3 linked regions of the Homo sapiens genome follow. The protein of the gene in region 1 interacts with the protein of each later gene in a pairwise test. Each region holds a gene or a part of one and is shown on either strand. Other genes may lie near its edges.

Region 1 (3,663 bases):
TGAGATTACAAAGCAGCCTGTGTAGTTTGATTTGTAAACATATACCTAAAAAGTATGTGTGTATGTGCACAAGTGTGTATATACGTATACATGAACATACATTTGAGGAATATTTGAGGGTAACATTTAAAAGCAGGGCTCTGGAATCAGACACACTTGCTGTGTGGCCAGAGAAAGGAATTCAGCTTTTTTAAGCTTCAGCTTTCCCATCTGCAAAATGGGTTTGAGGATGATAATATCCGGGGCTGCAGTGGAAGTAAGATGAGACACCCAATGTAAAGCAGTCACCACGGTGAGCGGCTAAGAGATAATAATAGCTTGAGCTGGTGGGGTGGTTACTCTTACAGGTCAAGGGATGTGTAGGAAAACCTCTGGAAGGAGCACCCCCAAAATGTTAATCATGGGTAAGAGCCTATATGTGGGTTTTAATTATATTATATTTTGGTGTATTTCTAAATATTTTTTAGCAGTGACTCTATATTGCTTTATATTTGGGGTAAAAACTGTCAACATAACTCAGTGGAGCTCATTCATTCATTCATTCATTGGGGCTCACAGATGCATACCCCCCAAATGCTCACTATGTGCCAGCTACCCCATCAGACCACGAGCATGCCAGGCAAAAGGCTGCAGCTGAACTCCTCCTGCCCTGCGGCCTTCATCTTGGGTTTTCATCTGCTCTCCCCATCAGCACGCAGAACCACCTTCTCCATAGCTGGGCAGAGGGCAGAACTCCCAGCCAAAATGACAGACCCATGAGACATATGGAGCTCAACTGTTTCTAGAGGGATCTGAGCCATGTCCGCCGTGGTGCAGGCTTCAGGTGAGAGCATCGTCTAAGGCCTCTTTTCTCTGGGTTTGGCCTGGTCACTCCTGTCCCTCTCCCCACAATCTTTTCTCCACTAGCAATGAGAGCCATCTTTCCAATAGGCAGGTCTTGCCTTTCCATGGCCCTGCTTACAACCCTCCAGCGGCTTCTCTAAATTGGACTCCAATTGCAACTCCTTCTTCTAGCCTGCCCACTTTTCCACTCACATCCCTTCTCCACCCACACCTTCTCCTCCTGCCCCCACCCTCCACCCAAGCTCCTGTCGCATCGCCTTGCCTTGCTGTTCCTGAAACATAGCAGCCTGTGTTCTATCTCAGGGCTTTCATACATGCTGTTCCCTGCGCCTAGAATACTTTTCCTAGGGCTGGTGCCTGGTCATCCTTCAGTCCTCAGCTCAAAGGGCCCCTTCCCTGACCACCCCGCCCTCTCTTATCCTGTGACACACCACCGGCCTGTTTCCTCCATGGTGCTAGCATAGCGTATCCAAATGGTGTTGATTTTCTTGGTTAATGTTGGTTCTCTAGACCCAGACATGTGGGCTGGGGTCTTGCCTTCTTGTTCATTACTGTTTTCCCAACCAAGCTGTTGCACCTTAGTAATAGCTGACTGTCATCGGCACTCTCTAAACATGCTGGGCAGCCTGCTGAACCCTGAGGGTACTCCCTGAAGTAGGTGCTTCATTAACCCCCATTGTATAAGACAGGCAGGGGAGACACAGAGAGGTCAAGCCACTTGCCCAAGACCACACAGAAGGTGAGCAGCCTATCAGCACAGGGATCTGGTGGTCTGATTCCAGAGTCCCTGCCTGGGTCTGCCCTGCCTTCCTGCCCACACCCTGGAAATGTTTGCTGAAAGAACGCATGAAGACCCCATTTTCCTGCCTTCTCTCTGCTTCTGCAGAGCAGGAGGTCATGGTGCTTGCACTTGTAGACTTTAGCCTGGCATGTTTCCCATGGCTGGGTTTGGGAAGGACGTGGACCTGGACTCTGCACCTGGCACTGCTGTGCTCTTACCTTCAGTGCTGGCTTTGCACATCTGGAGCCATCAGTTTCCACTGGGGCTTATTTCTTACTTAGGAAAATGAGTATTTTAAAAAAATGAGTATTTAAAAACGTTTCAAACCTTGATGTACTTCTCCACTGGGGTCACCGGCCGGATGCGGAAACGCTCAGGAAGCTCGATTTTGGGCTTTGGGGTGGGGAGATCTTCTTCACACTTGATCAACTGAAACAGAATCCCCAGAGATGGGAAGTCTTACGTGAAGCTGGGGGAAATGTACTGAAACAGAATCCCCAGAGACGGGAAGCCTCAGGTGAAGCTGGGGGAGTGTCCTCCCCATTGCTTCCCCTAGAAGGCGCATTTTATAGACACAGAAGTGGGGCATGGAAATGGGAGGCAGAGGCTTGTCTTAGTTACACCGTTAGGAAAGTAGGGTGGGGACCTCAACGCAGGCCTGCTGCACCCAAAGCTGAGACCCATCTCCATCCCCTCCTGCTGCTCACCACAGCCTCCTGATTTACATCCCCTGTGGGGGAATTTGAGAAAACGTTACCAGTTACGGACTCAAGTTTTAAAATGCCAAAAAGGGTTGAGTGTGGTGGCTCATGCCTGTAATCCCAACACTTTGGGAGGCCGAGGTGGGAGGATTGCTTGAGCTCAGGAGTTCAAGACCAGCCTGGGCAACTTAGCAAGACTCCATCTCTTCAAAAAATACAAAAATTAGCTGGGCATGATGGCATGTGCCTGTGGTCCCAGCTACTTGGGAGCCAAGGTGACAGGATGGCTTCAGCCTGGAGGTGGATGCTGCAGTGAGCTGAGATCATGCCACTGCACTCCAGCCTGGGTGACAGATCCAGACCCTGTCTCAAACAACAACAAACAAACTAACAAAAAATGCCAAAAAGTTTTCAGGACCGAACTTTAAAATATTAGAGGAGAGCGTCCACTCCCCTTTTTAATTTTTCAAGCAATATCAAGCTTTTTGAAAACCCAATTTAATTACATATAAAGAATATTAATATAGACTCCTTATGCATATTATATTAATAAGAACTCATTCTATGCATAAAATTTCAAACTGTGGAACCCTCTAAGAATTAAAAACACCCTCATTAAGAACAGCATAATTTCAAAGCTCGTAGGATGGGATGAATTACAAATGGGCTTTACACTGCTGTGAATCATAGATACTTTGACTGATGTGGTGTTTTAATTAATTCTGCATCTCTTGTGTTCTGTCCTGAAGTTTGAGAGGTTGCAGATTGGTGGCCACCACCCCACCAGAACCCACATAAGCATTTCATTTCTAGACTCAGAAAATTTCATGTAAACATCTGGCTTTCTGGACTCTCTTGAGTGATGGGAATATGCAGTTGGCTTTCCCATATGGTTTCACTTGGCTGGGCTCATGCTGGCTGCCTCTTTGGACAGGACCAGTGGCCTCTTTGCCTGAGTCTCCACCCCTTCTGATTAATTATGCTTGGCCCTGTCTCCTGTTTCTGTCACCTAGCTGGTCCCTGTAGACTTCTGGACTTGTCATCTTTAGGGAATACCGACAGCATTTTCCCAAGAATCCCTCATATGTCACTTGGCCTCCAGGCCAGGTGAGGTGTCCATAGCCTTCTTGTATCTGCACCTCACAGTCGCTCAGTTAGGCAGGTGAGGACTCTCATCCCACTTTACAGATGGGAAGTCTGAGGTCAGGTGGCTGTGGCATCAGACCCACCTGCTTCTCACCTGAGTAGGGTCCTTATCAGTTGTGTGACTTTGCAGGTCTTGGAGCTCAATTTCCTAATTTGTAAATGGGCATAAAACAACACCTGTCTCTGCACCGG
Region 2 (2,771 bases), on another chromosome or scaffold:
AAACTTCTAATCATAGTCATGACTAATGTAAACCAATGTAAGCCCCATTTGAGGAATCAATGAATACTCGATAAATGCTAACATTAATTAAAAATGGATTGTTTTGGAAGACAGCATATATGAAGAAATGGATATATACACTTCTCAAAATTGCTTTGCATTTTGAGCTCAGAATTTCAGATGACTGTGAGGACTAGGATAATCAAATTATTTATACACACCAGCACAGTGATCAATTCATTTAGTCAATTAAGGAAGAAAGAAAAATCAATGTCAGAATCAATGGAAACTAAAATCAAGTATTTTTAAAACATTCTGTTAATCTCTAGACTCTAGCATAGTGCTTGCACAGTGGATGTCTTCCAATAATATCTATTAAATAAATATCTGTTAAATAAAAAGCTTCTATAAAATGAACTACCACATTTTTTACTTTTTAACTTATCACAAATAACCAGTATCTATTTTTTCGATAAATTCCACTATGAGAGCTCTTATTCTGTTGGGGTAAATCTTGGATAGTGTGATAACCTACTGTTCAGGTTTAGGTAGGCATTCCACTTTCCCTAATGGGAGACATGAAAATAAATAATCACAAGGTCATATTTGCTAAGCCAGAATAAAGTTTATTAACAAATGGTCAAAATGGTTATTTCTCAAAGAGTGATGAAATAGCCTAAAAGACAGAAGGGAGGTCTCCAATGGTACCCAAATGTGCAAATAATTAAGAAGATTCATCAAGACTTGGCCCCGGGGATTGGGATGGCCTTAGCCTTGATGTAGGCAGTAGTGAGTGCTGAAGCCCAGATGGTGCAGAGGACATTGGGCAGCCACCTCACGGAACCTGTGCAGACTCGGCTGGTTAACAGCGGGGCTCACAGGGACTCTCACAGCCAGGCTGAACATAGGTGGTCAGGTTGATCCCACTCAGTCCGGGAGTCGGGTGACAGTTGTTGAGCAGCCAGCAAGTTGGCACATAGGTATCAGGCTTGCAGCAGGGTGGGGGGCAGGTGTCACAGCAGATGGGCTGAAGGAGGCTGATCTCATGTGGGCAGGTGCTGGGTAGGCAGACTCCACAGCGGCAGCTTTTATCAAATGAGCAGAAGGTGGTGGCAGGGCCGGTGGGGACGCTGCAGGAGCGGAGAGCACAGCAATACATGGCAATGGGAGGTGGGTTTTTGTTGAGTTGAGAGAAGTCTGTTGGTGTCTCGATGCTCCTCTCTTCTGCTCTGGCTCTTATATACCCATCTCCCTGGGCGTCAGCCTATTACTGAGGGTTTTTCCCCCATGTTTCAGTTTATAGTTATTTCCATAAAAAATGCCTAATTACTTAAGTGTTTATTACCTAAGATACACTGCTCACCTCATAAAAGAGATTTAGGTTGTTTTGTTGTCAAATTAGGACTATTCACATTGCCAGTGTGTCACTACACAGAAATCTTCATTCCAGTCTTCAAAGGTACCGGGCCATTATCTTCTAATCATTATACCCTCACTAATAATGGCTCGGTATGCCAGGCATCTGCAAACGTTTCCCACTTCTTTTGTTTACTTTTCAGATGAAGAGGACAAGTAAGCTTTTTGTTTGCTGTTCTACCAGTGACTACAGGTTCTATGTGATCCTTTAGGCCCTCAGGCTGAAAAAGTGATATAACATTTTAGATTTATTATTTGTGGCTCCAATAAACTGAATGAAGATGAATGGATAGAATCTATAGAGAAATAGATTTTGGTTTTGTGTAAAGAGGCACTTTCAAACAGAGCTATAACAAATCGTTTGTTCTGCATTCCTTTCAAATATGCTCTGAACAATAACTTGGTAAGAACATGCAGGTGGGAATGAAGACCTTCATGGGTGACAAAGATGGGTGTCCTTTAAGCTCCATCCAACTGTGTTATAAATGGAGATTATTTATAACCAAAAGGCTGGTTGTATTGGGCCATTCAGAAGCTAAATGATGCAGTATTTACCAGACTGAGTTCCATGAACACTGGTTCCAAGGGACTTGAAAGTGTTTTCTGGTAAGTAAGTTTGGGAAATGCTGAATTCTTCATTGTTGGGCCTCTCGGAGCCTTTAATGTGCTAAAATGCTCTATGACTTTTCAATACAGAGATATAGCATATATTTTTCTCCAAACTTACTTGACCATGGACTGCTTTTTGTTTGTTTTCAGAGATTAGCTCTATAGGTCAGTGCTTTATGAAACATACTTGGGGAGATTTAGCAACATCTTACAGCAAGCTTGTTCAACCTGTGGCCCAGAAAGGCATTGAATGCAGCACAACACAAATTCATAAACTTTCTTAAAACATTATGAGATTTTTTTGTGATTTTTTTTCTTTTTTTGCTCATCAGCTGTCATTAGTGTTAGTGTATTTTATGTGTGGCCCAAGACAATTCTTCTTTCAATGTGGCCCAGGGAAGCCAAAACATTGAACACCCCTGTCTTACTTCCAGGCTCTGTGGTCCAGAATAGAGACATTTCCGAGTTTCATCTAAACCACTAAAACTCTAAAAATAAAGTTTTAAAAGTAGATAAAGGTAGAAAATTTAGTATGATGATTTAGAATTACTTTAGAATATGAAAAATACTAAACTGGTAAAACCTTTAGAAATGGCTTACTTAGAAAGGCTTAAAAACATGTACATATTTTCTTGACCCATTTTTTCAGATAAGATGGCTCAAGTTCTAAAGTAGAAAATTGCACAATGCAGAGGAATCAGAAGCCAAATGAGATGCAAATCAACAAGATGTTGGATTAAAAAAAT
Region 3 (2,493 bases), on another chromosome or scaffold:
TCAATGTTTTATTTAAAATTCGCTTTCATTGATTAACATAGAATTACTGTGCTTTGAGATAAACCTCAGAATACAAACACACTAATTGGAATGAAGATTGCAATAAGTTATTGTTTAAAACTAAGTCATAAAAATAATAGTGTACATAATCATATTCTAAAAACAAAATCACACACAAAACCACTGAAAACAGATAAAAAGTAAAGACAGATGAAAGTACACAGTGATTTTGTCCATCTTATTCTTTTATATCTTCAGGACTTAGAATGGTGCCCAAATTTGGAGACACACAATGAATATATGTTGAATAAAATATATTATTGAGGCAAAACTGTTGAAATAAAAACACCAATTCAGAGGAAAGAAGACAAACAGCTTGATTGAAGTCTCATCAATGCATTTGAAATGTACTAAAATGAATTGATAAAGCCATGTTTGCTATTCAAGTTAAACGTGTTTATTTAAAACTATTTTAAAATACATGTCACAACAGATGTCAGTGACTAAATAATAATAGGTGAAACCCTGATTCAATGTAATGATTCCAGATTCTTCCATAAAAACTGATGGCTAGTTCCTTCTGGAGCATGAAGCCAAAAAATGGTAGGTATTTTCTCTACATTGAGAAAAGTGTTCGCCTTGCTGAAGCATACGGGCAAGATCTTGGAGTTAGAGTATGAGAATCAGCAAGTTTTTTAGTAGAATCCAGAGAATCCATATCCTTCACGGCATGATGGGCGGCAGCAGCCATATCTATAGCCTCCATAGCCAGAGCCATATCTGTAGCCTCCACAGCCACAGCCATAGCCCAGACCACCAAAGCCTCCACAGCCATATCCCAGGCCTCTGTAGTAGCTGCCATAGTATCTCATGGTGTCAGGGACTAGAGATTCAGTTCAATGCTAATGATGAGTTTCCTGAGTGTAGGTGTCTCTAACTTCTCAGAATGATTTTATACTCTAAGTAGTGGGTGTCATGAACAACAATGACAGGTGATCTTATTTCCACATAACAGAATAATTTTAAGTCTAACAATTGTTTATTTTTTTTCTTTTCTTATGTAACAAAGGGTCCAAACTATTATTTAAAGACTTTTAGTCTTTAGTTTGCATTCCTAAGAACAAAATATTTTGAAGATGAAAAATGATTATAGCCACTTCAAAGGCCAGGCTGGTGTTGTAATTAAAATGGTCTAATCGGGTTGATAGCTTCCAGTAACGCTGTAATTACATAACCTCATATTGCTTTTCTTTTTAATTTGCAGTCCATCGTCTTGGTTACTTCATTCCCAGAACCCAAGGACTTCTCTTCATGGTAGTCAGGGCATAGTCACAAAGTCATTAGTGATTTCCAGTAGTCAAATTTAGAGGAAACCTTGGTTTTTGACTCATTTGAACTTTAATTGACCTTTGACATTGCTAACCTTCCATCCATTCATTCTTTTGTAAAGCTTTCTTGCCTTAATTTCTATGAGAAACCTTCAATTAGCTTCCTCTGCCAATTTTTTGTTAGGCTTCTTCCCAATTTTTTATTCATCCATTAACTTCAAAAGTGTACCTTTTCCTCTGCATACACTTTTCCCATGAAGTTCCATTAAATATTATTTTTCTTTTTTCAAATTTTATTTTTAAGAATACATAGTAGAGTATATATATCTATGGGGTATATGAAATACTTTTATACAGACATGACAATGCATACTAATCACTGGTTAATGGAGTAATAATCACTGGTAAATGATAAATAGGGTATCCATCCCCTCAAGCATTTATCCTTTGTGTTAAAGCAATTCAATTACACTCTCTTATTTTAAAATGTTCGATTAAATCAATAATTTAATTTAAATGCAATTTAATTATACATTTTAAAATAACTAAGAGAGTATAACTTAGTATGGCCACACTTTTGTGCTATCAAATACTAGGTCTTATTCATCATTTCTATTCCTTTGTACCCATTAACCACCCCTACTCCTCCATCACTCACATCCCTCCCCACCCCTACCCTGCACCCACCTACTCCCCTTTCCATTCTCTGTTAACCATCCTTCTAGTCTCTATCTCCATGAGTTCAATTGTTTTCAATTTTTAGCTCCCACAAATAAGTGAGAACATACAAAGTTTGTTTTTCTGTGCCTGACTTATTTCACTTAGCATAATGACGACCAGTTCCATCCATTCTGTTGCAAATGACAGGATCTCATTATTTTTTATGGTTGACTAGTACTCCATTGTGTATACATACCACATTTTCTTTATCCATTCATCTGTTGGTGGAAAATTAGGTTGCTTCCAAATCTTTGCTATTATGAACAGTGCTGCAACAAACATGGGAGTGCACATATCTCTTTGATATACTGTTTTCCCTTCCTTTGGATGTATACCAGGCCTCCATAGTAGCTGCTGTAGTAGCTCATGGTGTCAGGGACTAGAGATTAGGTTTGATGCTAAAGATGAGTTTAGCACCAGCAGTGGGATTTCTGTGTCATATGGT

What was found.
Region 2: the proteins of CIMIP1 (region 1) and KRTAP3-1 interact in binary tests that used the Homo sapiens proteins (3 or more experiments, as listed by UniProt).
Region 3: the proteins of CIMIP1 (region 1) and KRTAP19-6 interact in binary tests that used the Homo sapiens proteins (3 or more experiments, as listed by UniProt).

The regions. Positions count from the first base shown.
Region 1 is NC_000020.11:58,153,858-58,157,520, reverse strand, and holds part of CIMIP1 (ciliary microtubule inner protein 1), read right to left. Parts: intron 2,054-3,663; coding exon 1,952-2,053; intron 824-1,951; exon of another isoform or gene 692-823; intron 1-691.
Region 2 is NC_000017.11:41,007,916-41,010,686, forward strand, and holds KRTAP3-1 (keratin-associated protein 3-1), read right to left. Parts: upstream 1,214-2,771; 5' UTR 1,160-1,213; coding exon 863-1,159; 3' UTR 606-862; downstream 1-605. UniProt on the Homo sapiens protein: In the hair cortex, hair keratin intermediate filaments are embedded in an interfilamentous matrix, consisting of hair keratin-associated proteins (KRTAP), which are essential for the formation of a rigid and resistant hair shaft through their extensive disulfide bond cross-linking with abundant cysteine residues of hair keratins.
Region 3 is NC_000021.9:30,540,962-30,543,454, forward strand, and holds KRTAP19-6 (keratin-associated protein 19-6), read right to left. Parts: upstream 904-2,493; 5' UTR 873-903; coding exon 696-872; 3' UTR 574-695; downstream 1-573. UniProt on the Homo sapiens protein: In the hair cortex, hair keratin intermediate filaments are embedded in an interfilamentous matrix, consisting of hair keratin-associated proteins (KRTAP), which are essential for the formation of a rigid and resistant hair shaft through their extensive disulfide bond cross-linking with abundant cysteine residues of hair keratins.